2 separate regions of the Homo sapiens genome follow, and region 2 is linked to region 1. The links come from fine-mapping of genetic effects on gene expression. A gene starts in region 1. The other region holds a variant in brackets. All regions are shown on one strand. Distances are between the middles of the regions.

What was found.
Region 2: its variant is fine-mapped to the expression of LRRN3 in whole blood (INTERVAL, PIP 0.94).

What each region holds. Positions count from the first base shown.
Region 1 is chr7:111,089,772-111,092,702 of GRCh38, forward strand. It overlaps LRRN3 (leucine rich repeat neuronal 3), which reads left to right and starts at 1,356. Exons shown (of 3, transcript NM_001099658.2): 1 at 1,356-1,733. The region is part of intron 3 of IMMP2L (inner mitochondrial membrane peptidase subunit 2); the gene reads right to left.
Region 2 is chr7:111,011,996-111,014,926 of GRCh38, forward strand. All of the region lies in intron 3 of IMMP2L (inner mitochondrial membrane peptidase subunit 2), which reads right to left. Among named protein-coding and RNA genes, the nearest start is that of LRRN3, 78 kb to the right of the region's middle. The variant T/C (reference allele first, on the strand shown) is at 1,555.

The DNA of each region.
Region 1 (2,931 bases):
ATTCTTATAGAAAAAAACATTTGGGAACTGTTTCTAGAAAACTACAGAGTGAAAATATTCAGTATTTAAAGACAAGCCTACTGTTTAAAATTTTTCCTGGTATTATTATTATTATAATAACTGCAAACTATTGTTCTATGTCATGTCAATAAGCACTTAAGGAGCAATTAGATGTGAAGGTTTTGTTTTTTTTTTCCTAAGTAAATCTAATAAGTGCCATTTCTCTTTACTCCACTAGAGGGTAGTCTCTCAAAACTGGGGTTGGAGTCATGACTAGCCTGCTTTTGACCTGTTGATATATTAATCCTCATGTTCCATTCTCCTCAACAAGATGTTTCTCTAGTATACTAATTAAGGTTGTAAAACATGCATTTTTAAAACTGCTTTTTGATTTTTCATGTATGTTCTTTCAGAAATATGCACTGCTATGTGTTTCTGTGTTTTCCAAATTTCTGGTAATTAATAAAAATGTTTTACATGTATGGCTTATATAGTATATTTTCCTGGGAAATATCCTTTCAGAGTTAATAGGCCTAAGAATAAAGATAGTCTTTTAAATAATTTAACTTATTACAATCGAAATATTTCCCCAGAGTGGTAAAAAATACATCCTAAATACACACACACACTCACAGATACACAAACACACCTACACATGTACCCATTCATATGTAGCTCCTAGATTTATTACATCATATAAAGAGAAGTCAGTGAGTATAATTAGAAATACATATTTTTAAAAAGTACCCCCTCAAATGCCAATGTTGTGAATTACAGAGAGGCAAATATATGCTTTATTTTAAAAATCTGGTCAATCCAGACAAGAAATGTCATTGCTAAAAAAAAAAAAAAAAAAGTGTTATTGAACACCAAGCACATATGCTAAATTAAGTAGGATCTATAGAGAACCAAATGCCACTCAAAACAGTTGCAAGCTTCTCTTCTTAAATAATGCAGTCATTGCTGAACTTCAGAGACGGAGTTGGAGGTTTGAGTCTCTACCAGGTGTTTTTAATATTTAGGAAATCCTTATCAGTAGTGTGTCCTCTCTATTTGCAGACTGAAAACATATTTCTCTGAATGACTGATAACCTAAAATTGAGAAAACTTGTCAAAAATTCCCAACATTCCCTCAGAAAGGAAAAAAAAGAAGGAAAATGATACCTAGGAAAACATGCAAGCCTGTTTCATTTATTTGTATCCTAAGCAGCAGTGTCATAGAACAGACAGTTTGTTTCAGCCAACCAGACTGGAGCAGCTGCGAGTGCTACATCTTGGCTGTCTGAAGCGATTGGCTCCTCTCTGGGGAGTGGAGGGTGTTCAGTTATTAATGACCGCTGAGCAGGCAGCACCATGTCAGTGTGACAACTGATCGGGTGAACGATGCACCACTAACCACCATGGAAACAAGGAAAAATAAAGCCAGCTCACAGGATCTCTCTTCACTGGATTGAGAGCCTCAGCCTGCCGACTGAGAAAAAGAGTTCCAGGAAAAAGAAGGAATCCCGGCTGCAGCCTCCTGCCTTCCTTTATATTTTAAAATAGAGAGATAAGATTGCGTGCATGTGTGCATATCTATAGTATATATTTTGTACACTTTGTTACACAGACACACAAATGCACCTATTTATACCGGGCAAGAACACAACCATGTGATTATCTCAACCAAGGAACTGAGGAATCCAGCACGCAAGGACATCGGAGGTGGGCTAGCACTGAAACTGCTTTTCAAGGTAAGTTTAAAATACACATATATTTTAAAATACGTTCTATTTCTTGTCTCTTCGATGATCATGTTTTTACACCTAAATCCTCCTTTGATGTCTTCTTCTTGTCTGAATTCTAAGAGCATTTTTCTTTTATTGCACTTTTGAGAAGAAATTCACATGCAAAACCCAGCTGGCTCTGTGTGTGCCTAGCTGTGTTTGTGAGATTCTCCAACATGCATTTTACTAGCTTGAATGCCCATTAGAGGATGTGAGTGGGAGAGAAAAAGCAGTGTTGGGGGGAGGAGAAAAAGGAGGGAGACAGAAGAGAAGGGAACAGTGGGGGAGAAGAGAGGAGGAGAGGGAGAGAGAAGGAGATGGGGAAGAGAGAAGACAGAGAGGAGACAGAGAGGAGAGGAGAGTCACGGGTGATGGGGTGCAATTTTCCTTTTTCTTCACATTATTTGTAGTGAAAAGCAGATCACACATTATTCTCTGTTTTGAAATCAACCCACCAAATGGGGCATTTTTATTTTGTCTCATCCAGTGGATGCAAATTAAGGCAAATGCTGTTGTATGTTAAGAGCTAAACCACTAAGCAGAGTAGCAGAATGAGCATATCACAAACAGTTATTGAATTTCTGCCAGGCTACATCTTACGGACTGGGGTAAATGACTTCCCTTTAATAACATCCCCTCGCTGGTCTGAAGGGACAGTGCAAATGTCTGATTGCTAATGCAGCTGGAACTGCCACACACTAGGTGAAAGGATCCCATGAACCAGAAGAGTTCTAATCTTTGGTAATTAACAGGATCACAGCAGGATGGCTTTAAAGTACATTTCCTATTTAAGAAAATTGTTTGTTCTAACCAACTGCTATATTCCCTTTGCTGTTGTTGAGCTGGATGGCTTAATTCGGCTCTAATTTATTCATTTTTAACAATATGTCCTTGTTTCTCTGCCTCTAATTTCAGTGAAAGCAGGCTATGAATATGAGTAGAACCGTCCTAATTTAGTGAAAAGGGGATAATGTGAAAACAAAAATAGAAGTAAAGGTTCAAAATATCTACCTAGAAAATAGTGTGCTCTGGTACCATAAATATTACTGATATATTTCTCATCTTTAGTTTCAGAAGCAATGCCTTTGAGACAGAATTACTCTCAGTAAACTCTATGAGCATCCATGTATTGATGATTCATGGAATTCAGTGTGGGTTAATTTTT
Region 2 (2,931 bases), 78 kb before region 1:
GTGGAAGGCAAGAGAAGGTAAGTATGTCCATTTTCATCCCCCTGTCTATATTGAGTAACAGATATTTATGGAGTTCGAGTGGGAAAAAAGGTACAGGGAGAGAGAATTCTATTAGTTGAGGAGCTGAAATGTAATGCAGATCAAAGGTACAGGGATAAAATAAATTTCTATGGCTATTTCAGGTAAAATTTGATATGGCTAATTTTCATATGCACCATTTCTGATGAGATGTCCAAGCACGAGTTTTCAGAGTAACAATGCAATTATTTCCATTATCATTTTGAATTTATATTGTTATTCTTCCTTTAAGGAGTTTGAGTACCTCATACAATGTTGCAATTACTTTCAGAAATGACTCACTATAGTGCGAACAGTATTTCATAATAATGCAGCCAATAAAATAAAAACAAATATAAATTTCACCTAGGCAAATAAACATGAATGCATTCAGTTCCTCTACATTATACTTTTTCAATTTACAATGAAATAATTCACATATAGTAATATTTATATATGATATTAACATAGGGGCAAATGAAACATAGTTGATAAAGACACAATCCTGACTTTTAAAAAAATTTAAACCAACCTTAACAGAAATTATGTTTTAGAAGGCCAATAAATATAGATTTAGAGCGACTATTTATACATTACATATGTGGTAGCTATTCTGGAGTTTTAGGTAAGTTAGGGTGGACACATGTTTATAGGATCACAGAACAGAAATTTCAGAGATGAATGGGTCCAATCACTTTAGCTTACAGATTTATTAGTAAAGGCTTTAGCCCCTAACTTGCCGATGAGGAAATGAAAGCTGAGAGGGTTCACTGTATCTTATTTTTTCAGAACTTGTTCAAGCTTGTTGGGAGTTAGAAAATAACGAACATCCTAAATTATTGTAAGAAAATTTGCAATTAGGAAGAGGAAGGGCTTCCATATAGCTTATGTGCACTGCAGCTTTCATTCATTCAGCACAATTGTACTGCATACCTGACGTATTATACATTGCACTAGGTACAAGAACTATAGCAGTGAGCTAGATTGGTATGATTCCTAAATTCATGAACCCCACAATCCACTGAGAGAAACAAACAAGGAGAGAGGGCCTTAGAAGACCCCTAGATAAAGATTATATAAGGGAAAAGTACCTAAGGACAGATGAGGCTGTTGTGGTAAACATGTGTGAGACTGCAAAAGACCTTATAAGCCACGATAATAACTTCAGTATTAGTACTAAGAGCAATTGAGAACCACTTAAGAGTTTTATGTAAGAGGTAGACATGAGCAAATCATATTTTATAAATATGTTTCTGACTGAAGGAGGCAAGTCAAGGCAGGCAGGCTGGCCAATGAAAAGGCTTCTACAACACTTTAAGGCAGAACATGAAGTCTTGCACAAGGAAAGTAGCAATAAGGACAGAAAGAAACAGGCTTACTTTTCGAGGTAAGACTGAAAGAATTGGGTGACTGCCTGGATGGGAGGTGTGAGGGAGATGAAAACGGAAGGAGGGTGTGCAAGTTTCTGTTTTAGTAAGTGGGTGAACAGGAAGCCAT[T/C]CAACATAAAAAGGAACACAGAAGGAGGAGAAGAGGAGGATTTGAGTGCAAGCAGGTTATGTTCACAGGCATCACTCCAAACTAACTCCTCCCACATACAAACTCCCATATATGCCCCTTGCCTACAAGTGGAAAAAATCATTCATTTTACAGTGAAGTAGAATGATTCCCTGTAACTTAGGCAATATTATAGAGTAAAATCTTAATTATGTATATCTTTTATTCGTTTAGTTTATCTGTGGTATATCTTGATTAAACATTAAGTAGACTGCTTATTTTTTTTTTCTTTTTTAAAAAACAAGTCTGGTTTACCACCTCATATAGCTTTCATCTTACCAAGAAAATTCTTTGAAAGACAAACATGTAAAAAGTTCCCTCATATCAAGGAGGTCTTGACCTAGGGGTCAAGTCAGGAAAACTGGACATATTTCCAGCTTCTCAAGTCATATATTCACAGCAAAACTTCATTATTTTGCTGGCAATTACTTTTCAGAAAAGTAGGCATATCCATAATCAAATATAAGTACAAACAGGCCAGGTGTGGTGCCTCACGCCTATAATCCCAACACTTTGGGAGGCCGAGGGAGGCAGATCACTTGAGGCCGGGAGTTTGAGACCAGTCTGGACAACATGGCAAAACCCCAAAAATACAAAAATTAGCCAGGCATTGTGGCGCATGCCTGTAATCACAGCTACTCAGAAGGCTGAGGCACGAAAATTGCTTGAACCTGGGAGGCAGAGGTTGCAGTGAGCCGAGATTGCATCATTGCACTCCAGCTTTGGCAGGAGAGTGAGACTCTGTGTCAAAAGAAAAAAAAATTGTGTGTGTATATATATATACACACACACATACACACACACTTATGTATGTACAAATTACATTTTAAATGCAAATATAAATGACTCCTGGATTAATCTTTGAATCACTGAACTCTGTTTTTATCATAAGTTGACTATTTAAAAGGCTTTTGGAATGATTTCTTGGATATGAAATGAAAAGCACAGACAACAAAAGCAAAAACAGACAAATGGAACTACATCAAACTTTAAAACTTTTGTGCATCAAAGGACACAGTCAACAGAGTGAAAGGTAATCTATGGAATGGGAAAAAAAATCATATATTTGATGAGGGGCTAATATAAAGAATATTCAAAAACCTCTTATATGCAACAACAACAAAAAACCAAATAAGCCATCTAAAAATTGGCAAAGGACTTGAATAGATATTTCTGCAAATATGACATACAAATGGCCAACAAGCTTGTGAAAATGCAAATCAAAACCACAGTGAGATATCATCCCACACCCACCCATTAGGATCACACCTATCAAACAAAAGAAAACACAAAAATAATAAGTGTTGTCAAAGATGTGGA